Regions from separate parts of the Homo sapiens genome. Here all the other regions are linked to region 1. The links come from fine-mapping of genetic effects on gene expression. A gene starts in region 1. Each other region holds a variant in brackets. All regions are shown on one strand. Distances are from middle to middle.

Region 1 (10,363 bases):
AGGGTCGTTTTCCTTTGGGGATGCTAAATAAACTGTGTTGTACACCTGCATTTTGTCTGAGACTCATAACATGAGGTCAGTTGTGGAATTTTCCGCTTCTGATGTCACGCTGGCATGCAAAAACTTTCAGATTTTGGAGCACTTAGGATTTTGGATTTTCCATTTAGAGATGCTCAACTTGTATGTCTTCAACCACTCTGCCAAGTTCTGAAATCTCCATAGTATATTCCACAGACAATGATATAATAGAAGAAACTGTAACAGTCACTTCTGATTATGTTGTTTTGGACCTGCTTCCCAATACTTCGATGTCATCTGGTAGAACCGGATATCAGCTGATGCCAAACTTCTTTCCCCTCCAGCTGGGCAAGACGGCTCAATCTCCCTCGTGAATACCACCATCAATCATTCATTCATTCATCCGTTCACTCGTGCTCACAGGCTAGTGCCTCCTGTTGTGACCTTGCCTCACCCTAACCCTAACAATGCAGTAACCAGATCCTTCTGATTAACCAGTTCAAGTCCTGCCTCCCCATTGAGCATTCTGTACTTGTTACCATCCTGTTGACCTCAGCTTTCTCTGGAGTCTTTTGAAGACGCAGTTTCATTTTACAATTATTACACAGCACATAATAATGTTCTTATAGTGTGTCTTTTCTCTAACCGTTAGCATCAGGGGATATCGTGGTCAGTTTTGCTGCGTTGCTTTGTTCCCTTAATTCTGGCATAAGCTGTCTCTATGCACCATATAGAGAGAGAAGGAGGACTGTTAGCTGTCAGCCGTAATAAGATTCTGTACCAGAATGGCTGCCTTTGCCTGGTAGGTACTGACCCCAAGCAAGAAAAATAATCTGTTCACATTTAACACCTTTTTACTGTCTGGATCACTGTTTTCTTGTGTGATTTTCTTTTTCTTTCTTTCTTTTTCTTTTTTTTTTTTTTTTGAGACAGAGTGTGACTCTATCACCCAGGCTGGAGTGCAATGGTGAGATCTCAACTCACTGCAACCTTCACCTCCTAGGTTCAAGTGATTCTCCCTGCCTCAGTCTCCTGAGTAGCTGGGATTACAAGGGCATGCCACCACGCCTGCCTAATTTTTTTTGTATTTTTAGTAGAGATGGGGTTTCACCATGTTGGCCAGGCTGGTCTTGAACTCCTGACCTCGTGATCCGCCCTCCTTGGCCTCCCAAAGTTCTGGGATTACAAGCGTGAGCCACCCTGCCCAGCTTTCCTGTGTGATTTTAATGTCCAGTGTCTTTTTTTCTTTTTTTTAACTTCATGGGTCCTGAACAAACTATTACTGGCTCTCCCTCAGTCTGGTTCAACAATTCTTTTCCTCTTTTCAGTTGCCTTAAAATAAGTGGTGCTCAAAGTACCCACCTCTGTGCTTTTGTTATGCTTCTGTACACACTTGTTTTCTTTTCATGACCTTAGCAATGCCCATTAGTCTCTCACCTTCACCAGTTCTGGCACCACCTATGCTACCCCCAACCAATCTGTGATAGTGGGGGCCCAGCTCACCTGGGGAGGTGAGATTGAAGCAAATCCTGCCTTCGTTGCAGACCCAAAGGACTGAGCAAGCCAGTATGCTCTGGACACTGGGGACACATCAAAGAAACTGTTTTCCTGGTCCACCCCCACTGGGAGGGCCAGGATGCTTGTCTGTCTCCTTGTTTGTAGGGCCTCCTTCATGCCAAGGCTTTTCTGGTCTCCTAGGTTGCAGGTAAACAGCCTGGAGTGCCCAGACCTGTACCCTCCTCAGCTAGAGAGAGCTGTTCCTGCTAGCTCTATTCATTTTTCCAAATCTTCCCCTTGTCTTTGATATCTTTTCCCAGGTGCTGGGGTTTATACTTTCTCCGTGCCAGAAGCCACAAGCTTATTCTAGTGGAGATAGTGTCTCCGCCCTCCTTCTTTCTTTTTGGATTTTATGTGTGGTGGATTAAAGGATCAGATACTTATTCCCTGATATTTACCCAGCTCCGTACCTCTTTTCCCTTCAACCCCTCTGTCCTTGCTCCCAATGTGCCAAATGGCCACATGGCCAGCAATCATTCTACAATTTACAGTAATCTCCCCCTATGCAGAAGTATACGTTGAAATGTACACCCAAATTCAAACCTTCTCCCCAGCTCAGCCTGACTGATTTTCTCTTGGCTCTCTCCTGGATATTTCACTCGCACCTCAAGTTGTGCTCAGTACCTCCAAGCCAGATCTCATTCTTCTTGTTCCCTCTCCTTGCTTCCTTACTTTTGTAAATGGCACCATCATTTCCTGATAATGCAGACACAAAGCCTCCCTTCTAATCCGCCTTCTAATCAGCTGTTAGACCTTGTAGGTTCAATTTCTTGAAAGAAGTTGAGATGTATAAACAGTTCCTGATTTACGGTGGTTTGACTTATGATTTTTGCTAGATACTGGATATACATTAAAGAGCAAAAACAGTTGTTCTACTTTTCTGGCACTTACAGTCTTGTGGGGGGGAAAACAGACAAAATAATCACAAATAAACATAATATCACAATTTAGATTAATGCTTATAAAACAAAGGTGCCTATTGCTACTAACATTTTCTATCCCTGCTACCTAACGTAAAAACACAAAATTCAACATGTTTTTCTTTTTTAAAACATCTTTATTGAGATATAATTCAATAACATCCAGTTTATCCATTTAAATTGCGTATGTCCATGGCTTTTTGTATGTTCAAAGTTGTGTAATCATCACCATAAATGTTTTTATTATCGCAAAAATAAACCTCACTTGTCTTAGCCATCACCCCGATCCTTCCCAGCCCTAAGCAACCACCAATCCACTTATGTCTCTATGGATTTGCCTGTTCTGAACATTTCATGTAAATGGGATCCTACAGTATGTGCCTTTTAAATGACTGGCTTCTTTCATTAAGTATAATGTTTTCAAGGTTTATCAATGTTGTAGCATGTATCAGTACTTTATTTCTTTTTACCACTGAATAATATTCCATTGTACCATGTGTTTTTCTCAGCATAGACAAAGATAGGATGCTGTTCCGCTGTATTCTCCATACCCAGACAAATTCAGTTTGTCATGTTTCTAGAAAAAGGTGACAGTAAGTAAATATTGGCTAAGCCTTACAAGGGTGGCAGCCGTGTTTACAAAGCGGCTTTTCATGAGTGACTTTATTCACTCAGTTCTTTTAGTCTAATTAGTATTTCTGACTCACAAACGGAAGTGATTCTATTTTGGCATTCTTTCTCTCTTTCTCCTGCTTGGTCTCTACTGACTTGCTGTGTTAAATTATGCAAGTTACTGAAACTCTGTTTGTTTAACTCCTGCGTGCTCTATAAAATAAGCCCAGTCCAGTCTGCTTGTTTGCCAAAGCTGTTTGAAGACAATTTTTCATATGATATGCATCATCAGCTCCCACAGAAGGCAAAAGGAATTTGATGTGTGGGGGTAGTCTGGGATCCTGTTCAAAATTAATGCTCATCTGGAAGAAATATGAAAGCCTGATACTTGCTTACTGGACTTTTAGTTGTATTCACTTATTGCTTTTCCTCTGAGAAACTTTGAAAATCTTTATCTCTTTTGTGGTTTTTTCTTTCCTTTTTTTTGAGACAGAGTCTTGCTCTGTCACCCAATCTGGAGTGCAGTGGTGCGATCTCAGCTCACTGCAACTGCTGCCTTCCTGGCTCAAGCGATTCTCCTGTCTCAGCCTCCTGAATAGCTGGGATTACAGGCGTATGCCACCATGTTCAGCTAATTTTTGTATTTTTAGTAGAGATGGGGTTTCGATATGTTGGCCAGGATGGTCTCAAACTCCTGACCTCAAGTCATCTGCCCGCCTTGGTCTCCCAAAATGCTGGGATTACAGGCATGAGCCACTGTGCCCATCCTCTGTGTGTGTGTGTGTGTGTGTGTGTGTGTGTGTGTGTGTGTGTGTGTGTTTTATATAAGATGAGATAAAGTTAAAAAAAAAAAGATTGTAGTAGAAAAAGTTTTTCTGATACTCTCTATTGGCCAACTGTGAACCAAAGAGAATAATCTGTCTGACCTAGCTTTGTGACCTGGGGAACGATTATCCATAACATTCAGAATTCTCTTTATTTTACCCTGAGATTGACCTCTCCAGACCCTAAGTTGGGATGTAAAATTCACCTGGATTTAAATTATCACTAATTTACTTATGCAATATGCTCTGTGCTGAGGAGAATGCAAAAAAAAAAAAAAAACCACAAATCCTTGTTTTCAAAGTGCTCACAGTCTAAAAGAGATGTGAGGAGCTGTGCATAAGGCAGAGGGAGCTAAGCCCCAAGAGAGGCAAAAATCTAGATGTTCAGGGAGCAGAAACCAGAGAAGACCTTTTTTTTTTTTTTTGTCTCAGATGGAGTCTTGCTCTGTAGGCAGGCTAGAGTGCAGTGGTGCTATCTTGGCTCACTGCAACCTCCGCTTCCCAGGTTCAAGCGATTCTCCTGCCTCAGCCTCCCGAGTAGCTGGGACTACAGTCGTGCACCACCACGCCCAGCTAATTTTTGTATTTTTAGTACAGACCAGGTTTCACCATGTTGGCCAGGATGGTCTCGATCTCTTGACCTCGTGATCTGCCCTCCTCGGCCTCCCAAAGTGCTGGAATTACAGGCATGAGCCACTGCGCCCGGCCCAGAGACGACATTTCTGCCAGGTGGAGCGACAGACATAGTTACATGGAGAAGATGATGATGATGATGATGATGATAATGATGATGATTTGAGACAGGATCTCGCCCAGTCGCCCAGGATCCAGTGCAGTGGCATGATCGCGGCTCACTGCAGCCTCCATCTCCTGTGTTTAAGCAATCCTCCAGCCTTAGCCTCCTGAGTAGCTGGGACTACAAGTGAGCGCCACCAAGCCCAGCTAATTTTTTTTTTTTGTGTGTATATATATATATATATATATATATTTTTTTTTTTTTTTTGGTAGAGACAGGGTTTCACCATGTTGCCCAGGCTCGTCTCGAACTCCTGGCCTCAAGTGATCCACCTGCCTCGGTCCCCCAAAGTACTGGGATTACAGGCGTGAGCCACTGCGCCCGGTGAGAAGATTATTCTGAGCTTTTTGAAGTGGAGACAGGAAATAGCATGTAAACGCTCCTAGTGCCACTTCCTTCGGGTGGCGAGGTGCACAGCAGTAGTCTCAGGTGTGTGAAGGGCAGCTGTGAGAAATAAACCTGAAAAGACGGGATGGAGACCTTGAACACTAGACTAGGGAATCTGTTCTTGATAATTTAAGCAAACGGAAGCCAATGAAAGTCTTTGGCACACTGTTCATCAAAACTGCTCTTAAGGAAATTAACCTGGCAGGAAGATGAAGGGTGGATTGGCAAGAGGAGAGACTTCAGACTGGGAGACCAAGGGAGGGTGCTGCAACAGTCCAGGCAGACGGAGTGGAATGAAGGTGACCGGCCGCTGCAGCAAGCTCTGGAGTCTCGCAGTTGGGACGTTAGGGGTACCACTCCAGGACAGAGCTCCCTCCTGGGGCAGGGACTGGGAGGAGCCAAAGTTATAGCCACACCCCCGGTGACGCCCGGTGGTCGGCTGTGGTCTCCCATTGGCTACACCGGCTGCCAGTCCCTGGAGGAGGCGGTGCCCTTCCCCGCCCTCTCCGAGCTCGGCTTGAGGCGGGCGCGGGCTGAGAGTCCGGGGATCCCGGGGGCCAGTCGCGGCCGGGACATCGGGCGCTGCGGCCGGGGACCCGCTGCTGAGATAGACAGGTGAGAAAGCCCGGGGACGAGGGGCCACTCCAGAGTTCCTGCCACCCTGGGATCCCCGCCCCCTTGAGGGCGCCCCGTCCAGGGGGGCTCGCGGGGCCGAGGTTTGGGGCGCCGGGAGGAGCGGGAAGGCGGGGACGAGAGGGACGGAGCGGGCTGACTCGGGATCCGCCGCTGCACCTCCCGCCACAGCCCAGAGTCGGCCCCCAAGTCTGGATGTCGCCGGGAGAGGTGGGCAGGGGGCGGTGGCCGGCGGTCCCTCGCGCCCGTGGGCTCCCGTGACGTTCTGTTTGGAAACACTGGGCCCGGGCTTCTGGCGCGGCGCGAGCGGTCCCGGGGGCGCAGCGGGGCAGCCCAGGGTCCCCGAGCCGAGGGACCCGCGCGGTCAGGGATGCCGCGCTCGCCTTAGGCTTCGGGAGATCCACCAGGATCTCCGGGGCGAAACTTTAAACTCAAAACTTTAAAGAAGCATTTTGTACACCTCGAGTTGCTGGCACGTCAAAGCACCCTAAGGTGACCTACCCGGAAACCACTGTCCCCGAAGTTAGTGGGGCACTTTTTAAAGGACAACACTTTTTACCCGTCGATATTGTTGTGCGTAACGCTGTGGAAATAGAAGTCGAACCACTTACATTGGAAAAGCTCTGGTGGTGGGCTACCTGAGGGTCACTGCTTTCTTTGTGAAAATGCCAGTCTTGGAAGCCTGGCCCGCACAGCGGTGTGTCCCAGAGGAGTATGTAGTGAGGAGCTCGGCTGTTCTGGGCAGGGTCACCGAAGGGCAGGCGTTGCCCAAGTGGGGCTAGGTGGCTAGGTGGTGGTCAGAAGGTTCCTTAAACAAGGCATGCCTCAGTCTCGTCGAGAAAGATCTTTTAACACACACACACACACACACACACACACACACACACACACTCACACACACGATTACCCAGCCCAGTTAAGCTGTCCCTTAAGAGGCAAAAACTAAAGAATATCATAGAGACTAACGCTGCGCTTCATCAGGGTAAGCCTAAGTAGAATAATTCTTTCATTTCTTTTTCTTTCCTTTTTGGGATTTGGAAGAGAAACAGGAAGTCAGAGATTCAGAGAAAAGAGCATTCACTCCACAATTGTAAACAGTTTATCTTATGTCAGTAAATACTTCCAAAAATCACTGGGGGTATTTGGAACTCCAAGACTTTTTCCTGTCCCCTGAAGTGAAGATAGATTATTTTCAAATGCAGAATCTAGACATGATAGATTCCTTTCAAATTCAGAATCTATATGTGGTATTTTCTTTATTTAGCAGTCGGCTATGTTATATAGTTATATATATATTCCCAATGTTATATAGTTCTATAACATTAGTGGTAATGAAAAGGATGGCGGATATTGTTTAAAATTAGAATTTTTAACTACCCAAGATGGTGCACTAATACAACAGTTGCTTTGTACTTGTTAACTAACTGAAATTACAGAATGAAATGAGGGAATCAGGTGTCTGGATCTCAGTGCAGACCATTATCCAACCAATTTGCAGTTCTGATTTATTATGACCCATTAATAGGGAATGTAGATGTTAAATGCCAATTTAATAATATTCTTAAGGCTTTGCTACTTCACTATAAAATATATAATTAGCATAACTAAAGAAATAGGTATGTTTGACTTTGAATTAATTTATTATGTCATCATAGCAAAGTGCGCTAGGTAAGATATATGTATGATACTTTTCATATTTGGGGTTAACAGTTACCTCTCAATTTTTTGAGCTAATTGTGAAATTCTTGGCAGGGATAACCACAAATAATGGTTGATTAAATTTGTAAATGCAGTCCTAGTATACATCCATTTAAACTGCGACTTTTTCTTTAGTCATTTGTAAATATGTGATCTTTTTTATTGAGATCTTAATATAAGTCACAAACTATAAGATTTTTCCTTTTAAAGTATACAGTTCACTGGGTTTTGGTATATTCACAAGGTTGTATAGCCATCACCAATATCTAATTCTAGAATATTTTCATCACCCCAAAAAGAAACCCCCTATCCATTGTAGTCAGTATCTGCTACCTTCTCCTCACAGCCCTTGGCAACCACTAACCTACTTTCTGTCCTTTGGATTTGCCTCTTATGGACATTTCATGTAAATGGACTCATACAATATGTGGCCTTTTGTGTCTGGCATCTTTCACTTAGCATAATGTTTTCAAGGCTCTTCCATGACTATAGCGTGTATTAGTACTGTATTCCTTTTTTATGGCCGAATAATATTCCATTGTATGGATGTACCACTTTTTTTTTTTTTTTTTTTTTTTTGAGACAGAGTCTCACTCTGTCACCCAGGCTGGAGTGCAATGGCAGGATCTCAGCTCACTGCAACTTCTGCCTCCTGGGTTAAAGCAATTCTCCTGTCTCAGCCTCCCTAGTAGCTGGAATTATAGGCCTGCACCACCATGCCTGGCTAATTTTTGTATTTTTAGTAGAGACGGGGTTTTGCCATGTTGGCCAGGCTTGTCTTGAACTCCTGACCTCAGATGATCCACCTGCTTTTGCCCTACAAAGTGCTGGGATTACAGGAGTGAGCCACTGCACCCAGCCAGATCTACTACATTTTATTCATTCATCTGATGGTGGACACAGGCTGTTTCTACTCTTTGGCTATCATGAATAATGTTGCTCTGAACATTTATTTACAAGTTTTGGTGTGGATGTGTATTTCATCCCTTGGCATATGACCCCATCCCTTGGCATATGACCCAGCAACTCCAATGCCAAGTATAAAGTTACCAATACTTTATATTGATATACCAAATATAAAGTTACTCCAATAACTTGGTAACTTTATATTTAAACTTTTTTTTTTTTTTGAGACGGTGTCTCACTCTTGTCACCCAGGCTGGAGTGCAGTGTATGATCATAGCTCACTGCTCAAGTGATCCTCCCACACAGGGCTCCCGAGTAGCTGGGACCACAGGTAAGCTCCCCGACGCTTAGCTGATTTTTAAATTTTTTGATAGAGATGAGGTCTTGCTATGTTGCACAGTCTGGTCTTGAACTCCTGACCTCAGAGATGAATTCTCCAACCTCAGCCTCTCAAACTGTTGGGATTACAGGCGTGAGCCACCATGCTGGCCTGTTTAAACTTTTCAGGAACTGTAAAACTGTTTACAAAGCAGCTGTACCATTTTTACATTCCCACCAACAATGTATGAGGGTTCCCATTTCTCTACATCCTCACCAACACTTGTTGTTAGATGTCTTTTTCATTAGAACATCCTATTTGATGTGAAGTGGAATGTTGTTGTGACTTTGATTTGCATTTTCTCTCATAGCAAATAATGTGCTTATTGGCCATTTGTATATCTTCTTTGGATAAATCTCTATTCAGATACTTTGCCCATTTTTATTTATTTATTTTTAATTTATTATTATTATTGTTTTTAAAGATCGGGGTCTCCCTCTGTCGCCCAGGCTGGAGTGCAGTGGTGTGAACATGGTTCACTGCAGCTTCGACCTCCTGGGCTCAAGTGATCTTCCTGCCTCAACCCCCAAGTAGCTGGGACTACAGGCCTGCACCACCATGCCTGGCTAATTTTTTTTTTTTTTTTTTTTTTAATAAAGACAGGGTTTTGCCACCTTGCCCAGGCTGGTCTCAAACTCATGAGCTCAGGCAGTCTAACCGCCTCGGCCTCCCAGAGTGCTGGGATTATAAGCATGAGCCACCACGTCCAGGCCTTTGCCCATTGTTTAATTGGGTTATCTTTTTTTATCGTTGAGTCCTAAGAGTCCTTTATATATTCTAGACACAAATCCCTGAGATACATGATTTGCAACTATTTTTCCCATTCTGTGGGTTATCTTTGCACTTTCTTGATAGTGTCCTTTGAAGGACAAAAATTTAAAAATTTTTATGAAGTCCAATTTATCTATTTTTTCTTCGATTCCTTGTGCTTTAGGTGTCATATCTAAGAATCTGTTGCCTAATCCAAGGTCATGAAGATTTATACCTCTTTTCTTCTAAGAGTTTAGAGCAAGCGTGTCCAACCTGTGGCCTGCAGGCCACAGGCAGCCCAGGATGGCTTTGAATGTGGCCCAAAACAAATTTGTAAACTTTCTTAAAGCATTATGAGATTTGTTTTGCAATTTTTTTTTTTAGCTCATCAGCTACCTTTAGTGTTAGTGTATTTTATGTGTGGCTCAAGACAATTCTTCTTCTAACGTGGCCCAAGGAAGTCAAAAGATTGGACACCCCTGGTTTAGAGCTTTGGCTGGTACCTGTAAGTTTGTGATCCATTTTGTGTTACTGTGTATATATGGTATGAGGTATGGGTCCACATTCATTCTTTTACATATGGATATCCAGTTGTCCCAGCATCATCTGTTGAAAAGACTATTCTTTCCCCCATTGGATGATCTTATCACTCTTGCCAAAAATCAATGTGAGGCTTTAATTCTGGACTTAACTTTATTCTGTTTATCTATATATCTATCTTTATGCAAGTACCACACTGTGTAATCAAGCTACTGTATAGCTTTGTAGTAAGTTTAGAAATAGTAACATGTGAGTCCTCCAACTTTTCAATTTTATTTTGTCTATTCTTCAGCCCTTGAATTTCCAGGCAAAGTTTGATCAGCTTGTCAATTTCTGCAAAAAA
Region 2 (10,363 bases), 88 kb after region 1:
GCGTGAGCCACCGCGCACAGCCTTCATCTTCTCACTTCTAATGTTAGAGTGTTAACCTAGAGAGCCACAGGGCTATTGGAAATCTGTGAAATGTGGAAACTATGAAATATACTGGTGAAATTGTACTTTCTCTTTTTTTATGTTAATGCATTCATGGGGTACAAGTGCAATTCTGTTACATGCATTGACATTAGAGTGTTAACCTAGAGAGCCACATGGCTATTGGAAATCTGTGAAATGTGGAAACTATGAAATATACTTACTGGTGAAACTGCACTTTCTCTTCTTTATGTTAATGCATTCATGGGGTACAAGTGGAATTCTATTACATGCATTGATTGCATAGTGATTCTGTCAGAGCTTTTAGGATACCCATCACTCGTAATAACATACATTGTACCCCATTACATAATTTCCCATAATCCACCCCTCCACTCCCTTCTTTATCCATCTGTGAAACCTCAGTCCTAGGCATAGTGTTTGATGCATAGTAAACATTCGTTGTATGTTGAATGGTGAGCACCAAAGCAAAACTTGCCATTCTACTACTGTTAACAGGTAAATCTTTTTTTTTTTTTTTACAACTTTTATTTTAGATATAGGGGGTGCACGTGCAGGTTTGTTACATGTGAATATTGCATGATGCTGAGGTTTGGAGTACAGATCCCATCACCCAGGTAGTGAGCATAGTACCCGATAGGTAGCTTTTTAACCCAGCCACCCCGGTGCCCTCTACCCTGCTAGTCCACAGTGTCTATTGTTTCCCTATTTATGTCCATGTGTGCTCAATGTGTGACAGGTACATCTTAAACAGCACTGGACAATCTATTTGGAATATCACTTATATCTGGGCAAACTGGATGCCTATAGAAACTCAAATAGGGTGTATAAGCTATAATTTAAGGTGTCAGAGTTCTGGGCTAAACTTGTAATTCATTGAAATATGGTTTCAGGTAAAACATGGATATTCCAAGAGAGTCTGGTGTACACTAATAGGAAAGACATTATATTATTTTCGGAGTCAAGAAGATAAGGTATGTATGTATTTTTAATATGCCAATTGAAGTAACTTTTTGTGTGTTAGGGCTTAAACTTTTCCTTTTCTCTCTTCTCTTACTTTGTAAAACTTCAGAATCTTTATGAGGTTGAAATTTGGTATAATTTGGTGCAACTGAGAAAATCACACAAAGGTCTATCACCTACACCTACAAGGGTCTTGATTCTTAATTACAAGCCTTAGCAACTTTTAATTAATGCATCTTCTAAGACCTAGAACAGTCTTCTTCTATTCCCTCCCCACAACCATCAGTTTCTTATATTTTCCCAGGTTCTTACAGACCAGATAAGGTTGATAGAAGGAAGCAGCAAGTTAGGAAAGAAAACCTAAAAAGGAAAAGGAATCTATTTCTGTCCCAAGCCCTCAAATTCCCGAATACCGCTTATCTACCCATCCATCTGCCTGTTTATATTCTGTTTATTAATGTTTAAACTAATCCCCTCCCCAAAAGAATCTGAATTATTTTAAATTTCAGAATAAAAAGATGGGGTGTCTGCCCAAAGGTAAAACGCATGCCCAGTCATCATTATGGGTATTCTGTGTCACCTTTGGATAACTGAAGCTATAAAAATTGAACCAACATGGGCCACGAGTACTTGTATAACATAATGATGACTGCTCCTCTGAAGAGCAGCCTGTGACTGTTACTGTGTTAATGAGACTAAACTTCTTGGTCTAGTGACCACATGGGACAGTTAGTATTTCTCCTTCCCTTTTGATAGCCTACACTCTCAGGTCTGACCAGCTGTATTTAAAATACATGCCGTTATACTCAGTGTTGCTAATGGGGTAGAGATTAACGCAGTACAGCCATTAAAAACAATACTGAGGCCAGGCATGATGGCTCATGCCTATAATCCCAGCACTTTGGGAGGCCAAGAGGTGGGAGGATCGTTTGAGCCCAGGAGTTTGAGACCAGCCTGGACAACATAGTGGGAACCTGTCTCTACAAAAAATTTAAAAATTAGCTGAGTGTGGTAGTGTGTGCCTGTAGTCCCAACTACTAGGGAGATCAAGGTTGGAGGCTCACTTGAGCCCAGAAGGTGGAGGTTACAGTGAGCTGTGATTCGCACCATTGCATTCCAGGCTGGGTGACAGGATGAGACCCTGTCTCAAAATAAACAAACAAACAAACAATCTCTGAAGTAGTGTGGGAAAATGCCGACATACAAATGCTACCCGAATATGTACAATACAAAATTGTGCTGTCAATGTAATCCTAACTCATCAGTCAGGAAAACAGAAGCCACTGTACGTGTTACAGGTGTAAAAGATCTAATGCCACCCTAGGCAACATAGCAAAACCTAGTCTCTACTAAAAAAAAAAAAAAAAATTAGCCAGGCATGGTGATGCATGCTTGTAGTCCTGGCTACTTGGGAGGCTAAGGCAGGAGGATTGCTTGAGCCCAGGAGATTGAGGCTGCAGTGAGCTGTGATCATACCACTGCATTCCAGCCTGGGCGACAGAGTGAGACCCTATCTCAAAAAAAAAAAAAAAAATGTTAATATAGAATTGTGGACATACGTAAATATTAGAGAAGTTTTATAACTTACATAACTTTTAGAAAAGTTGTATGGGAGTGGTAAAAGTTAGGGAAACTGCCAATGAAGGTCAGAGAAGACAACACTGAAGATTTCTGGCCAAAGGACTGAAGGCAGCTGGTCCTCGAGGCTTCACTGGGAAGCTTCAGTGAATCTTACATGAGCCCCAACATCAGCCACCGTAGTCCCAGGAGAATAACAACTCTTCTACCCTCTCCTTCTAAACTTCAAGTAGATTCTCTCACAGGAAACTCTAACTGGGAACCATAACAGGGAAGGAGGTTCTGGCAAATACAGTTCCCAATTTCTCTGTAATTATGAGATCTTAGAGGATGGTGATTGGAAGGCCAAGTTTATAAATCTCAGTCTGACACATCTAAATAAAATAATTATCTGTGATCACAGTAATATGGATGGTTTCTTTCTTTTTAAAATCCTTTCCATACTTACCAAGTTTCTGTAATAAGCATGTGTTTTTATAAATAGAAAAATAATTTAATAAAAATGGATAGCATTGATCACAGAAGAAACAAGTCAGAAGAATGGATACATAAACAGAAATCCATTATAACAACTGGAAAAGTATTGAGAATATATGTGAATCATTATAGGCCTACTTCATTTTTTGCTATAAATATTTCCAAAAGAATTTGCTTTTAATCTGTATCAATGTCTTTTTTTATTAAATCAAAATATTTGAAACCACTAGGTCTGTTTGCTGCTTATCAAGGCATGGTGCATCCTTTGGTAAAATGAATAACCATCTTTAAATATTAGGGTGGATGAAACCTAGATTTTCATATCATTGTGCCTAAAGTACACAATTAGGTTAGTATTGTTATGTATTATCATAGTATTAATAGAATTTGTTTTCTTCATCCTATTATTAAAAGCTTGCTTTTTAGGAGAGGCGAAATTTTACCTCTACTTTCTTAGGGTTTTTGGCAGGCCTGAGAATTAAATTCACATTAAGACAGATTACAGGAGAAACATATACATTTATTTAAGTTTTACATCACAGAGGAGCCTTCCTAAGGCAATGAAGACTCCAAGACATAAAGGTGAACACTTATACACCAAACTGGACAAAGTGTAGTAAATTGTGAAAATGTGACAAGGCAAAGAGACTTGGGCTGGGGTAGTTACTTGGGTGGAGAAGTGAGGAGGAAGATAAGATTAAGTTTAACAAGGGTTGTTTGTATAACTTTCCCCAGGCTTCGGCTTCCCATCTTGACAAGAATCTTACTTTCCTTCTGGTAAAGGGAGGATATCTTTCATATAGGCGTTATGAAAGGCAGGTTCCCTCCTGCCTTTGGGAAGAAAACGCAGAGGGTCAGAACACCCTTCTTGCACCTGCTGCTTTTAAAAATGCCTTTAGTTCAAAATAACCCTTATGCCAAAGTGATATCTGTTGGGGTGGCAGATTCTGCCACCCTTCAGCTTTTGCTCTGAGTGAGATGACAAACAACTGGAGGGCTTTGAGCGGAACAGGGACATGATCTTGCCTGTGTCTAACAGGCACACGCCGACTGCTGATTAAGAATAGACCGGAGGGAATAAGGAGGAGATGGGTTAGGAGCCATTGCAGTAATCCAGGTGAGAGGGGATTGTGGTTTAGTGGTGCTGTGGACATGTGAGAGATGAACAGATTCTAGATAGATTCTGAAAGTCTTGTTGACAGGATTTATTGACTGAAAAGTCAGTATGAGAGACTGCAATGATGCCAAGGTTTTGGGTGTTAATAGCTATTAATAGAAAAGTAACATTGCCAACAACTTGAGATGGGGAAGACTGGGCAGAGCAGGTTGTCAAGGAGGACTTACCAAGGTAAGTCTGAAATGCTGTTAAGTTTGAAATGCTATCCAACATCTAAGTAGAGTTAGTGAGTCTGGAGTTATAAATTTGGGAGTAGCTAACATGCTGGTATTAAAGCCATGAGCTTAGATGAGGTCACCCAGAGAGTGAGCATAGATGGAAGAAGGGCTCCAGCACTGAGCCCTGAAACTTAGCATGTAAACGTGTGAGGTAAATATCCTTGTAGTTAGAATGAACTTTTTCAAAACTCCAATTGCAAACTTGGCCAAATATTTTAGAAGTTATAAATCTGATGCAGACCGTGTATTTTCCTGGAATAAAGGTACTAAATTAGAGCAAAAGTTTTACAACAGATAGGCCAAATATTCAACACACCAGATATAGTTGGTTTTGTCAATAAAAGCTTAGATAAAATTTAATATAAATTGGCTTTAGGAAGTTTTTCTTACCCTTAAGATGGAGAAATTCATGGTATTGTTTTGTGATATATAACAAAGAGCCTTGGAATGCTCCTCCTTTACTGGCATTTGGGATGATAGTTCGTTTTGCACTACCTATCTAATCTTGTTATTTTTTCTAGGAACAATATTTTTCTTTTCAATAAGCAGTTTTGAGACTATGTATACACTTGTCCTTTTGATCCAATAACTTAATCAAATTGCTGATCAATTCTGTGGGATAAAAAAGTCAAATGACTGTTTTGGTGAATTATGACTAGTTGCTTAACTAAATAATGGGTCATTTTGAAGCAGCCTCATTGTCTGGGGTAAATACCAAAGTTCTTGTTCTCAAGGACAAGGAGATCTGGGTCATGGACACACACAGACAGAGTGAGTTTAGAGCAGGAGTTTAGTAGATAGTGCAAAAGGAAAGAACACCTCTCCATCACAGAGAAGGGTCCCGAGTGGGTTGCCAATTTGTAGTAAAGATGTCAGGGTTTTTATAAATGGGCTAGCGAGGAGGGAGCTTGTAAGGAGGGGATATCTTATCCTCCTGATGGTTTAGTTGGAACCAGGTGTGCTATCTGTACAGAGCAGAGTTTTTTTTATCAGCTCTGTCTCATTCCGTAACCACATAGGCTGACTGTTAGTCTGTGTTTCTTTGTCCTGCTTATCTGGGAGGGAGAGTTTGTGTTTGTTGCCATCTTCTTGCAGCTGTAGGCACCCCCTCTAGTCTGCTTTTAGCTTCTCTATCTTAGTGTGTCCAAAGGGAAAAGAATGTGCTTATTAAGGCCCACTGTTTTATTGGGGGGCCCATTGTACAAGTGTGGAGTTTGGTAATTACCCAGGAGACCTTCCCCCCTCCTTCTGTGCCGAAGCTGTCTTATCTGTGTTTCACTGTCTGCTCTTTCAGGCTGCTTGTTGTTAGAAGAGAAGTGATTTCCTTGAACTGCCTGGGGTTAGAAAAGGAGCTATCTTTGAGCTGC[G/T]TTTTTAAAAAGGAAAGTTTTCTGCTGGGGACTTGCTTTACCCTAACTGTCTATCTAAATAATTTCTTTCTGCCTCCTATAAGAATTTTAGTACAGCTGAATCATCTGAACTACTGCATAAAAGTAGCATCTTGTTTTTTCCTCAGAAGTTAAATCTCTAATATGTATATGGTTCTTTCATATTACTTTTAGGCTCTTTGGTTGTTGCCACTACTTTTGTTACACTGTGGATAATCAAATTGCCTCTAGGCATCATTTTTAAAAAGGTATGTTATACTGATGCGGTGGCTCACGCTTGTGATCCCAGCACTTTGGGAGGCTGAGGCAGGAGGATTCTTTCAGCCCAGGAGTCTGAGACTGGCCTGGGCAATGTAGCAAGACCCTATCTCCAAAAAAAAATCATTTTTTTTTAATTAGCTGGGCATGGTGGCATGTGCCTGTAGTGCTAGCTATTTGGGAGGCTGAGATGGAAGGATCCCTGAAGCCCAGGAGTTCAAGGTTACAGTGAGGTTACTGATTGCGCCACTGCACTCCAGCCTGGGAGACAGAGGGAGACCCAACCCTGTCTCAAAAAAAAAAAAAAAAGGAAAATAAAAAATAAAGTAAAATTTTTAAAGGTATGCTTTATAAATTTAAAAATGAAAAGGACTATGAAATGTTTTAGTAGGAAAAGATTTAGAAAATGCCTTCCTCACAATTACTAATATTTACTTTAGTTTCCTTTAGGTCAGATCAAACTCTGGGAGGCTAAAGTGGAAGAGGTTGACAGATCTTGTGATTCAGATGAAGATTATGAAGCCAGTGGACGAAGTCTGTTATCCACACATTATACTATCGTTATCCATCCCAAAGACCAAGGTCCAACTTACCTCCTAATTGGATCCAAGCATGAAAAGGTATTCAAAGACTTATTGGTTGATTTAGAATGATGTAGACTAATATTATTCAGATATTGGTAATAATTATCAAATCAATTTAATGGAAATAAGGAAGAAAATTTTGCTATAGACTTTCACCTCTGTTTTCAGAGATTCTTTACCTCCCTGGAAATGAGCCTCGTTCAAATATGTCATTTTCTAATCCTGTTGGTAAGAGTGGTATCAAGGCTGAAATTAGTGCGTGGAAGTGGAGGGCTAAAGGAACTTATGTTAAAAATGTGGATCTCTCAGATTGAACATTTTTTGGTAAATCTAAGGACTCTGTTTTATATTTTTGACTAATTTTTAATAAAATTTGGCCTTAGATACAGTAGAAAATTAATTATTTTATGTATTATATGTACATGTAGTCATTTATGATAAAGGAGGTATCACAAATTAATGGGGAAGTAATATATCATTCAATACATATGATTATGTATTTCTTATATATTGAGGAAATTGGCTACTTAGGAAACATTAGTTTTTCATCTCATACAGATAGCAAAATAATTTCCAGATTATTATTTTCATCTCATACAGATAGCAAAATAATTTCCAGAATTTAAAGAGTTAAAAGAATTCAATGAAATTATTTTTTAAAAAGGCCTTTATCTGAGTTCTGAATCAGAAGTACTTTCTAAGAAAACAAAAGGGCGGGCTGGGTGCGGTGACTCACGTCTGTAATCCCAGCACTTCGGGAGGCCGAGGCGGGTGGATCACAAGGTCAGGAAGATCGAGACCATCTTGGCCAACATGGTGAAACTCTGTCTCTACTAAAATACAAAAATTAGCCAGGCGAGGTGGCGTGTGCCTGTAATCCCAGCTACTTGGGAGGCTGAGGCAGGGGAATCGCTTGAACCCAGGAGGTAGAGGTTGCAGTGAGCTGAGATCGCACCACTGCACTCCAGCCTGGCGACAGAGCGAGACTCCGTCTCAAAAAAAAAAAGAACAAAAACAAAAAGGCAGTGTAAGAAATCAGAGTGCAAATGGTTGATAGATTTGACTATACAAAATTGAAATAATTATTTATGTCAAATATTATCATAAATATGACTAAAAAGATAATACAGAAAACAAAATATTTCATGGATGGCTACTGTATCCTTAACATATAAACAACTCTTTATAGATTATTATTGTTACTATTGATCATTGTTTTTGAGCACATGTATCAGGCCAAGTGCTAAGTATATCTCTTCTTCATCCTTCCAATTACCCTCTGTGGGAGGTGACCTTATTCCCATTTATAGATGGAAAGACTGAAGCACTTTCCTGTGGTCACACATCTGGCAAGAGGCAGAGTTGATATTAGACCCCTATCTCTAACCACAGAGCCTGTGTTCCTGAACACTTGCCTCTGCTACCTCTCATATGATTTGAAAAGGACTATGTTTCTAGTAGAAAAATGGAAAGAGGGCCTGATGAACAACTTACTGAGGAATTTAATGGCTAATGAATGCTTACGCTCATCTGTAATCAAAGATGCGCACATTTAAAAATGATAAAGCTTTTATTGTCTCTGAGATTATCAAAGATTTAAAAAATTATGCTAGTGAAGCTATGAGGAGGGAAGCACTCCTATATACCACTGGTGAGAATAGAAATTAGTGTAAATGCTTTGGAAAGTACTTTGAAAATATGTTTCAAGAGTTCCTAAAAGTTTTCTCGCCCTAGTAATGACTCATAATTCTATTTCAAAAAATATATACTAAGAAAATGTTGGCCAGGCACTGTGTCTCACGCCTGTAATCCCAGCACTTTGGGAGGCCGAGGCAGGTGGATCACCTGAGGTCAGGAGTTCGAGACCAGCCTGGCCAATGTGGTGAAACTCCATCTCTACTAAAAATACAAAAAGTAGCTGGACGTGGTGACAGGTTCCTGTAATCCCAGCTACTTGGGAGGCTGAGGCAGGAGAATCACTTGAACCTGGAGGCAGAGGTTGCAGTGAATCGAGATCGCGCCATTGCACTCCAGCCTGGGTGACAGAGCAAGACTCTGTCTCAAAAAAAAAAAAAAAAAAGAAAGAAAAAGAAAATGTTAGTAAATGTAGCCAAAAATTTATGTATAGTTTGTTCAACACAATACTCTTTTTTTTTTTTTTTTTAAAACAGAGTTTCACTCTGTTGCCCAGGCTGGAGTGCAGTGGCGTGATCTCGGCTCACTGCAACCTCCGCCTCCTGGGTTCAAGAGATTCTTCTGCCTCAGCCTCCCGAACAGCTGGGACTACAGGCATGCACCACCATGCCCAGCTAATTTTTGTATTTTTAGTAGAGACGGCGTTTCACCATGTTGGCCAGGCTGGTCTCAAACCCCTGACCTCAGATGATCCACCCGGCTTGGCCTCTCAAAGTGCTGGGATTACAGGCATGAGCCACCGTGCCCGGCCTACAATACTCTTTTTAAAATAATTTTATTTTTGAAGTATTTTAAAGATGGAAAATATAACATTTCCTTTTCAGTTAACAGATGATAGCTGTCACAGTATTTTTTATCAGTGAGAAGTTAGTAACCATCATAATGTTCAGCAATAAGAAATTGATTAAATAAATATGGTGTGTCCATATGTGTAGTAGAATATCCTGCAGCCATTAAAACTTGTTTATAAAGAATTTCTAGCAACAAGGGAGTGCTTGTACTATATTACTAAAATTCAGAAATTATCCTCTACTTTCAGAATAATTCAACTATGTAAAAATTTAATCTACATATATATTATCATAGAGAAAAAAAGACCAGGAATCTTTGGTGAATGGGATAAGACGGGTATTATGTTTTCTTTAAATTTTCTGGATTTCCAAAATATTCTGTATGTATCACTCTGGGAGCCAGATTTTTAATTTAATAGAATTTATTTATTTTGTAAAAGAATATCAGCTGGTTGTATTTAGTCTCTTAACATGTGTTACTCGTCTTAATTTTGTCATGCTTTTCTAAAATGCATCTGAATAAGAAAAGTGTAAATAATGGGAAAAGGTAATATAAACACAGTTCAAGTGAGCATGCCTCAGAATTGTTTGAATAAATGGCTTTTCATTATTATTTAAAAATTAAAGCAAGTGGTTCATTTCCATCTCAAAGTTTTCTACTGTTTATGCAAGTTGTTTTTTTTTCTTTAATCAAAACTGTGTCTTAACATTTAATTAATATGTTCTGGTTTTAAGGACACTTGGCTTTATCATCTGACTGTTGCAGCTGGAAGCAACAATGTAAACGTTGGATCTGAATTTGAACAACTGGTTTGCAAATTGCTAAATATAGACGGGGAGCCTTGTAAGTTCATAAACATATAAATAAAGCTTTATGGTTAATGAAATGGACCTCAACCCGCTTAGCCTAATGGAGTTTTCACTTAATGGGTTCCTGTTTCCCTGAAATATACCCACCTTTTCATTGCCTTTGCTCATCATGGGAGAGAATTCTGTCTGTGGCTCTTTGGCTGCAGGGACACCATCATTCCTCATTAGTCTGTGTCAGGTCACCTCCCTCTGCCTTTGCTTCCACTGCTCCTCTGCTTGGAATGCCCCCTTCGTTGGCAGTCCTCACCAACATAATGAAACCCCACCTAGCCTTAGGAGATCCCCCAGCCAGCCCTCTGCAGCTCAG
Region 3 (10,363 bases), 75 kb after region 1:
TTAGAATTCAGGGTTTAACAACATGATTTTGATAACAGCAAAATACATTCCCAAATTCCTTTTAAAAATCATATGCTGGCTGGGCACGGTGGCTCACGCCTGTAATCCCAGCACTTTGGGAGGCCGAGGCGGGCGGATCACGAGGTCAGGAGTTCGAGACCAGCCTGGCCAACATGGCGAAACCCTGTCTCTACTAAAAATATAAAAATTAGCCGGGCGTGGTGGCAGGTGCCTGTAATCCCAGCTACTCAGGAGGCTGAGTCAGGAGAATCGCTTGAACCTGGGAGGCGGAGGTTGCAGTGAACCGAGATCATGTCATTGCACTCCAGCCTGGGTGACAAGAGCAAGACTCCACCTCAAAAAAAAAAAAAAAAAAAATTCTATGCTATGACTTCTTCCTGTAAAACTTTCTGTTATCTAAAAAGAGTGATAACCTTAGGGATGGATACAGGGAGGTTGCTCTGCTTTTCTTTAGGAGGCGACCCTAATAACTAGCAGCCTTTTCTTGGATGAGTGGTAACATTAGGGATGGATACAGGGAGGTTGTTCCACTTTTCTTTAGAAGGCGACCCAAATAAGTAGCAGCCCTTTCCTGGATGACTCATCTGGGTCAGAGGAAGAAGACAGCTCCAGATCCAGCTCCCGGACGTCAGAGTCAGACTCACGCAGTAGGAGTGGGCCAGGCAGCCCCAGAGCCATGAAACGAGGTGAGGGAAAATCGCAGGCATATGAGGCAACTCCAGATCATTCTGAATATTAATTGGGAATTTTATCTCCATTACAGGATTATTTTTTAAATCCAAGAACTTGCTTCAGACCCTAGTGAAAAGAACTTTAGCCTATGACTGATATGTTTATATTCCTAATTCTCTTCTTAATTCTCTGTGATTTCAGACAAATTATATAGTTTTTTTTTTTCAGCTTTTTATTGTCTGTGAGAGGGAGATCACTTTATTGTTGGAATGAAGTGAGATAATTGGCCAAAATGAGGTTTCTTTCTTGGCATTTGTGAAATAGACTTATTTCAGCTAAAGTTGTTACACTGCTAACTGGCAGAAAATATACCTTAAAATTTGTCAATTAATCTGATGTTAAAGTGGAGAACAACATTTACTTGGAATATGTCTATGATTTTTAGTGGATTTTGAAGACATTCTGTGTGTAGGTAGTGGTTACAGAGAGATCTAATTCCACCAAATGACATCTGTATGTTATAAAAAGCCCTTAATGCAGCATGGTGTGTCTGTTGGCTTTCAAACTGTGTTCCATGGAACCTCTGGATACTTCCAATCCCCTCGGCTTCAACTGGAGCTGCTCAGCCTTCCTTGGTTTCATATTTTGAGCTTCCACTGGTCTTCTTGCTCTCAACTTGCCCCGCTACAGCCAGAATCAGGTTATGACACACTTTTGCTGGAAACACTGCAGTGGCTCCTCACAACGGCTATAAGGTGTTCCAGGATTCGGTCACGTACTTGACCTCATCTCCTTTCTTCTCTGTACTCAGCTCCAGTCTCACTGGCCCTCTTGCTGTTCTGAGACATGCCAGGCATGCTTGCATTTCAGGACCTTGGCACTGCTGTTTCCTCCAGCTGGTATTCTTCCCCTAGATGTCCGTATAGCTGACTCCCTCACCTCCATCAGCAAACGCTGCTTTCTCAATGAGGTCCACCCTGACCACACCACTCAAATTGCAGCCCTTTGTCTTTCTTCTGTTGCCAGCTCTTTTTATTCCCTTTAGTCTGCTCTATGTTTTATTGTTCCATACCACCTACTGCCTGTTTGTCAGTGGTCTCCTTCCGCTAGAATTTGTTCCACGAGAGCCAATATTTTTGTTGTTTGCTCTATCCCTAGCATCTAGGACAGTGCCTGGCACACTGGCCCTGGTCCTGGGAGCCTGAGACTTGTGTTCCAACATTGCCCCTGCCTAACTCTTTGACTTTGGACAAATCCTTTAATCTCTGGGCCTTAGTCTCCTTGGGCCTTAGCCATGACAATCACTGAGGTCCCTATAGGTCTACATTTTTGTTTATTCTATGAAAAATGAAGATATTATAGCAACTGTTACTTGTCTGAGTCAAATAAAAAGCAGTGTCACAAGAGTGGCATTGTTCTAATATGTCCCTTAAATGTTAATACATATTTTTAAAAATTGCTGGATACTTTTATAAATAATTACCTAAGTCCTTGATTTTATTTAATATATTCTAAATCTCCAATTGTAGTGACTCATGAAATGTGGCTTGCAACTCCCAGGTAGTTTTCTGTAAAGGCAAATGAATCATTGTATAAATGTTCCATTGAATTTTATGTTATAGCTGCTGGCAAGTGAAAGAAATAGTTTGTTTATATCTTTCAATCTTATTGTTTCTCTTTTATGAAATATTTTTAAAATCTGTAAACTGCTTAGTAGCTTATGGAACTTGAATGAAAAAATACTACTGAATTGTGTTTTTTTAAAATGTGAGGTTACTTTAAAAGTGATTACAGAAGTTAAGAAATTTAAAATGTGATTGTGAAAATCTTGATAAATTAAGGTTCAACATTTGTTTGCCTATATGTCAATGTGTAAATACACATATTTTTAATTCTTAATAAAATATACATGAGTAGACTCTTGCATATATTTTATATATGTAAAATAGCTGTGTGATTGTAATCATACCAAAATATTATTCCTGTTCCTTTCACTTCCTTAGAGATTTACATGACAGTCCCTACCTCTTAGTTCTGTTTTCTGCTTTAAAAGTTCTTCATGTTGGGAGGCCAAGGCAGGCGGATCACGAGGTCAAGAGATCGAGACCATCCTGGCCAACATGATGAAACCCCATCTCTACTAAAGATACAAAAATTAGCTGGGCGTGGTGGCGCACACCTGTAGCCCCAGCTACTCGGGAGGCTGAGGCGGGAGAATCGCTTGAACCCAGGAGGCAGAGGTTGCAGTGAGCCGAGATTGTGCCAGTGCACTCCAGCCTGGTGACAGAGCGAGACTCTGTCTCAAAAAAAGTTATTTATGGCCAAAGGAATGAGAATAAATCTAGTCTAGGGAGGCTTATGATTTAGGAATAATTGCATTCTGTAGGAGCACTCAGAGCTGGTGTTTGGCCCTCCCCAGTATTAAATACTGACTTGATTTCTTTCTTTGTTCTCTTAGGTGTGTCTCTCTCCTCTGTGGCTTCTGAAAGTGATTATGCTATTCCTCCTGATGCTTACTCCACAGACACGGAGTACTCACAGCCAGAGCAGAAGCTCCCAAAAACTTGCTCATCTTCCAGTGATAATGGGAAAAATGTAAATATTGAATATGATTTTTAAAAAGCAGTCAGTCAGATTGAGCCTCCAAAAGGAAACTGAAAATGCTTTTGTCTATCTTTTAAAAATTAGGAACCACTGGAAAAATCTGGTTATTTATTAAAAATGAGTGGTAAAGTCAAGTCTTGGAAGCGGCGGTGGTTTGTTCTTAAAGGTGGTGAATTACTTTACTACAAATCTCCGGTGAGTGGAAAGTGTTTTCTGTTTAGAACGTAATTCCTCAAACTATAAATCAGACGCCTGATTGATTTCCTTCCCATAATGCAAGTAATGATACAAAGCATTCCTTATTATTACTGTTAAAGTTAATCACTTTCCATTTGTTTTTCTGTTTCATACAGAGTGATGTAATTAGAAAACCCCAGGGCCATATTGAACTTAGTGCATCCTGTAGTATTTTAAGAGGAGATAACAAACAAACAGTTCAGGTACTTAACTTTTTTTTTTTTTTTTTTTTTTTTGTATCATGCCAGACTCAATTCTCAATTATCCAACCTAATGGAAAGGAGATAGGATAATTCAGTGTTTCTTTATTCACTTTGGGGGGTTAGTTTGATGCCTTGGAAGTATGTGAAACTCCACGAATTTTTGGTTAAAACTATAATGTAAGTTAGGTGTGTGTTGAGTAACTCCCACCACACTTTACCTTTCTTCCTTTATACTCTTCTTTCCTCATATTTAATCTCCTAGGTATTTTCAGCTGTCCAACTGTGAAGCTATTTTAAGGAAGGGTTATCTGGTAAATGAATTCTCAATAAGATGTTAGTTATATAATGTACTGTGAAATTCAGGAATGTTTGTATTTTAATATAGAATCTGAAAATGACAGTTCTTATATGAACTTCAGATGCCATAACACCAAAGTGGGAAATATATTGGTGAGCAGAGGGAGTGTGCTGCCAAGCAAGTCACACTGTAGGGGCAGCTGCTGCCCATTTTACTCACACATAAGGCCAGTCTTGCCAGAAATCTGTTAAATTTAAAACACAGGCTGTTGAGATATTCTAGTATATGTAATTTAAAGTCAGACACTTTATTTCTGAAATGTCTTCAATAACCATTATTTTCTTATATTGCTCCTTTGGAGGGTGGAGGACAACTTTGCCAGAAAGGTACATTATCAATGTTTCCAGTGATTTGTACCTGAAAACCTCTCAAAAATTTAGAAAGGAGAATCAAGGAAAGCTTTGTCTTTGGGCATGGCAGTTAAGAATCATTTGTAAGTTTCTGAAATTTGGAAAATTTGCAGTGTGGCTAATTTGAGACTGGAACATTCTGAGTTCATAATATCTAATCACATGTTCGTTCCAATAATTTATCTTCTTATATGCAAGATCTTCTTATTTTATTTATAGTTGATTTTGTCATTTGTATTAAGAAACCTCTTCTTTAGTTGCTAAAACTATGCTATTTTATTATAGTCTTTAATCATTCTGCTCCTCATTTCAATAAGTAGGAACCTGGCCGGGCGCGGTGGCTCACGCCTGTAATCTCAGCACTTCAGGAGGCTGAGGCAGGCGGATCATGAGGTCAGGAGATCGAGACCATCCTGGCTAACACGGTGAAACCCCGTCTCTACTAAAAATTCAAAAAAAATTATC[C/T]GGGCATGGTGGCAGGTGCCTGTAAGTCCCAGCTGCTCGGGAGGCCGAGGCAGGAGAATGGTGTGAACCCAGGAGGCGGAGCTTGCAGTGAGCCAAGATGGCGCCACTGCACTCCAGCCTGGGCGACAGAAAGAGACTCTGTCTCAAAAAAAAAAAAAAAAGAAAAGTAGGAACCTGTAACACATTTAAGCAAGAAAGGGAAAATGTGACAAATAAACAAGATATAAAATCATAACCCCAAAATTAGGTAAACTGGAGTAACAAAGTTATTTCCACAAAAATTTAATTGCTGTAATTCTCACAAAGTGGTTAAAATATTCTAACTGATATGGAGTCATTTATTTAGAAACTGGGACTTGAGATTTAGCATGTTTGCTTCTGTGTTAAGTAATGACGTTTGAATAATGAACAAGGAAATGCTAACAATCCTAAATCTTCACAGTTTTCTTTCCTATACCTTTCTCGTTGCATTCTAGTTGACCACTGAAAAACACACATACTATCTGACTGCAGATTCTCCCAATATATTGGAAGAGTGGATTAAAGTGTTACAGAATGTTCTTCGAGTACAAGCTGCCAACCCACTTTCCCTGCAGCCTGAGGGCAAACCCACCATGAAGGGATTGCTCACTAAGGTAGGAACCTCCTGTGCATAGCAATGTCCCAGGCAGCTATGGGCATGAGCCCATGATCGCTGAAAATGGGATGTCAGAGCATATACATATATTGAATATTGATATGATCTTGGGGATAGGAAAGGGTGTTTTTAAGTATGATGCCCAAGGCAAAAACTATAAAGATGAAAAGAAGACAAATTTGACTATAATATGTAAAAATGTAAAGGCTCTATTAAAAATTCTACGAGCAGAATTTTTAAAAGAAGGATTGAAAAACTTTGAAGAGGTATTTGAAACATGTGAAAACTGGTTAATATCATTAATATTTAACACGTTTTTTTCTAATCAGTAAGCAAACAATGAACACCAATTGGGGGAAAAGGAACAAAAGACTCAATGGGCAGGAAAGAGAGATCATCGAGGTTAGAAGGAATACAAATGATCAATAAGCATATGGAAAAACATTTTACTGTCACTCAATTTTTTTAAAAGCACAGATTGAAATAAGAGGTGGCACTTTTTAAAATCTGGTGAAAAGTAAGACGTTTTTACAAATTTTGAAACCTAGTATTGACACAGATTAAAAAATCTGCTAGTTTCTGCAATTACATAGGCAGTAGAAAAAAAAAGAAATCTGCTAGTGAGAGCATTACTCTAAAAGGCAGTTTGGCAATATCTTGGCTGAAGTGTTAACTTAGCCAATAATTTTGAGTGAACAAATCAATATCAAATCAACACACACACACACACACGCATATATATCTCCTTTGATCCAGCAATCTCAGTTTTAAAAATTTATCCTTAGGAAGTGGTCTTAATTTGCAAAAGATTTAATTATGAGATGTTCCTCACAGCATGTTTTTTTTCCTATTTTAAAAAATGAGGTATGATTAATATATCTGAAATGCACAGATCTTAAGTGTAGAGTTTGACTAGTTTTGAAAGCTATTTACTTTTGACTCTATCAAGATGCAGAACATTTCCATTACCCCAGAAAGATTCCTTGCACAGCATGGTTCATAATAAAGAAAAATTGGGATCAAATTAGATGTAGGGTAAGGTATAGCTTTAAAAAATGTTTGTACAACCATATAATGCTTTACTATGCAGCCTTTTAAATGTTGTAAAAGAATATCTAATGCTATAGAAATATGATGTATTGTTAGGTAATAAGTAGAGTGCAGTATTACATTATTATACCTTATTTGTTGTAAGTATTTATAGAAAAATGTCTGGGAAATATACCAAAGTATATTGGTTATCTCTGTGATTTTATTTATTTTTGCTTAATTCTGTTTTTTTTTTTTTTACAATGAGTAAGTATTGACTTAATATTATTTTTAAGTTTTAAAAAGTCCTATTGGTCACTTTTTGAAAAATACAACAAAATATGTATACACACATAATCACTCCTCATTCATGTACTCTGATTATGTAAGAGGTGGAAAATTAGATGGAAAGTAACTATGCTACTGTGTAGTTTATACTTATTATTAATGTGGGAATGTAGGTGGGTGTTATTCCATAATATTTAAAAAGACTGACCAACTATAGCAAAGGTAAAACTTAATTCACTATTGCATTAAACAAAGAAATATACTATGTACTATGTTTTTTCTAAAATACGACTGTGAAAATGTTTTCTTAGTTACTGATGGGTTAGGGAACAAAATATTTGCACAATACTTTTCCAGTGAACACACTGCTACTTTAAATCACATTCTTACTATAATTCATAATAATGAGCTATGCTCTTGTTTCAAGGACCTCATATGCATATCAAACCCTGAGAGTTTAAGATGATCCCATGGCTAAGGGTTTATTACTTCCCCCACAATTAGGATTTTGTTTGCTTGCTTGTTTTTACTTTATCAGCAAGGCATGTCAGTTTCTGCTCCTATAACATTTCTGCGATTCTCCACTTCCCATTTCACAATTGCATTTTAAATGAGTATGAGTCGATGGGATTCTCAGATGACTAAATCATTAGGGTTTATAGCCAGGATGCTTATTAAGTTTCCTTCCTGCCATTTGTGCTTGTCCACCCCCATATTTTCACCCTTAGAACCTTATGAGAGAACAGCTTCCCTCAGTTATTCTGAGTGACTTGTTCTGAGCTCACATTCAGGCTGCAATATGAGATACTGTCAAATTGCATTTGAATACCTTGGAGGGGAGGAAGTTTTCTCAGGTTGTCACATTGTTTTTATTAAGTACAGAATAATATAGGTAGATGCTAAGAACTTGACTAATTTGATTCTAGACAGTCACTCTTGCAATTTTTATTTTAATGCTTAGGAAAAACATTTTCTATATAAAAATTCAGTTCTTTAAAAAACGAAAATGTATTACGCAGTTACCACATGCAGCACAATGTGCTGAAAGATACTAAGATGAATAGGCCACTGTCCCATTCCTCAGAGAGCCTCATAATCTATTAAAAAAGAGGGAGACAAAAGCTTATTTACAATGATATAAAGTACAATTATTGAGATGTGTCAGTAATGACTTCTGAGAGAAGATTTACCTGTGCCGAGTCTTCAAGGAGGAGTAGGAGTTAGTTATACCAAGTGGGAATGGGTGGAGGGGTGGTACTCTAGGCTAGGAGACAGCGCGAATGAAGGCTTAGAGTCTTGAAGCAGTGGCTTATGCCTGTAATCCCAGCACTTAGGGAGGCTGAGGCAGGCAGATCACCTGAGGTCAGAAGTTCGAGACCAGCCTGACCAACATGGTGAAAACCCGTCTACTAAAAATACAAAAATTAACCAGGCATGCTGGCGGGCACCTGTAATCCCAGCTACTCGGGAGGCTGAGGCAGGAGAATCGCCTGAACTTGAGAGATGGAGGTTGAAATCAGCTGTGATTGCAATGTTGCACTCCAGCCTGTGCGACAAATGAAACTCCGTCTAAAAAAAAAGAAAAAAAGAAAAAAAAAATCTCGAAGCAGTGCCAGCTGCACTAGGAACAAGTCCTTTGGAGAAAAAGCTAGAGGGGCCTATGGATGGTGGAAAGCTATTTTTGTCTTTTTAAGGACTTTGGTCTTTATCCTGAAGGATATTTGAAACCCTGCAGGGTTTGTAACAGGAGCATGGGCATATTCATGTTGCTAACAGATTACTCTGCTAAGAGGAAGATGAATCAGTGGGAGGCAAGGTGGAGGTTCTAAGAACAGTTAAGGGAGTGGTTCCTATGAAGAGGATGAAACTCTGAAGGGGTTACAGGAAAAGAGAGGAGAGGATGAATTTAAATAATGGTAAGAGGTAAAATCTTTAGTTTGATTGAATTTGGGGTTAGGAAGTAGAAGAGATAAAGATGCCTGGTAGAAAGATGATAGCAGATAAGAGAGAGCTCAGGAAAGAGGAGCAGTTTTAGGAAGATTAGGTGATTTTGGAAGACATCAGGAGCTGGTAGGATGTCTTAGTTAAAAAGTCCAGCAGGCAGCAGACCACCAGTCTACATCGGAGAAGAGTGCTGGAGGGCTGGATTGGAGAGAAGGATTCGAGGAATCATCAGCATACATGTGGCAATTATGGGAAATTATGTAGGGCAGGGGAGAGCAGGGTAACACTTGTAAATTTAAGGGCACAGTAAGGAGATGTGTGCAGAGGTCTGAGAGTAATGCCTGTGACTGATCTAGTGTCACATGTGCTCAGAGAAGAAGGTACGTTGCCTTCAGTGGGTTGAAGGGTAAATGGGAGATTAATAAGTGAAGTATTTGAGTTTCAAGGACTATCTATACCTTTCAGTATGTTAGAATCAAGCTGGAGGGAACCTGGAGTCAGGAGAGGCATTTTTTAGGGTGGAAAAGATGTACCTTGAGTTCACAAACTAAGGGGAAGGCCCCTGGAAGAAGGGAGGAGGGGGATTAAAGACAAAGTCCAGAAGAAGTGGGTGGCTGGACATAGTGGGAAGGCACACTGGAAGGGCTGAAACTGGAGGAAAAGTGAGGAAGGGTGCAGAAAAGTATCTTAAGTTTGTAGGACATTGAGTGATATCATGTCTAATATCCTCAGTTTTCTTAATGAACATTATTCCGTACGACAATGTTATTTACTAAGAGTGGGGAAAAGGGTGGAGAATAATCATTCAGGAAAGTAGGATGTACCCAAGGATAAATAGAAGGCTTGGTAAGTATTATTGAAGGCCCACCAGACTTTCTGATTTGAGTTTTTATCGAATATTTTTCTCTAACATCTTCAGATGCCCAGAAAAAGGAGCAGAGAATTTACATTGTAGTGAAGTGAGGATAGTGGTTTTTTCTAACAGTTTATTATATAAATTTTCAAATATGCAAAAAAGCAGAATAATTTTACAGTGTACAACCATATGCCCATCACCTTGTTTCTACAATCAACATTTTACTTGCTTTACCACGTATCTTTCAAGATGATATTTGAAATTAATGTTTTATTATGGGCATTGCCAATGTATGTGAAAATAGAGGGAATAATATAATGAGCCCTCATATATTCATCATCTAGTTTCAACAGTTATTAATTATGGCTAATATTATTTCCTATAACCATCTGTCTCTTGTCACATTCTTCACTAGATTATTTAAAAGCAAATGGAATTTTGTTGAGTGGATTTGTTAGAAGCAAAGGAATACAGCATAATCACAGGCCCTGGAGCAAGAGTTGTTTCGTGATCAAACATGGAAACCCAAGTTGGCAGAGAAGGACATGGGGCCAGGAGGGGACTGATAAGCTAGAATAAAATGGAAGGATCAAGGGGCTTAAAATTATGAATGAGGTAAAGAACAAGAGTGTGGGCCAAGCATGGTGGCTCATGCCTGTAATCCCAGCACTTTGGGAGGCCAAGGTGGGAGGATCACCT

The links.
Region 2: its variant is fine-mapped to the expression of PLEKHH2 in atrial appendage (GTEx, PIP above 0.99).
Region 3: its variant is fine-mapped to the expression of PLEKHH2 in tibial nerve (GTEx, PIP above 0.99). The same link has a PIP of 0.9 or more in aorta, cerebral cortex and sigmoid colon.

Annotation. Positions count from the first base shown.
Region 1 is chr2:43,631,651-43,642,013 of GRCh38, forward strand. It overlaps PLEKHH2 (pleckstrin homology, MyTH4 and FERM domain containing H2), which reads left to right and starts at 5,610. Exons shown (of 30, transcript NM_172069.4): 1 at 5,610-5,729. RefSeq lists a silencer at 5,514-5,843.
Region 2 is chr2:43,719,716-43,730,078 of GRCh38, forward strand. It overlaps PLEKHH2 (pleckstrin homology, MyTH4 and FERM domain containing H2), which reads left to right. Exons shown (of 30, transcript NM_172069.4): 16 at 954-1,034; 17 at 6,557-6,736; 18 at 9,922-10,030. Among named protein-coding and RNA genes, the nearest start is that of C1GALT1C1L, 48 kb to the left of the region's middle. The variant G/T (reference allele first, on the strand shown) is at 5,841.
Region 3 is chr2:43,706,839-43,717,201 of GRCh38, forward strand. PLEKHH2 (pleckstrin homology, MyTH4 and FERM domain containing H2) reads left to right here. Exons shown (of 30, transcript NM_172069.4): 11 at 563-707; 12 at 3,152-3,288; 13 at 3,382-3,492; 14 at 3,651-3,737; 15 at 5,387-5,545. Among named protein-coding and RNA genes, the nearest start is that of C1GALT1C1L, 36 kb to the left of the region's middle. RefSeq lists a silencer at 8,187-8,386. The variant C/T (reference allele first, on the strand shown) is at 4,911.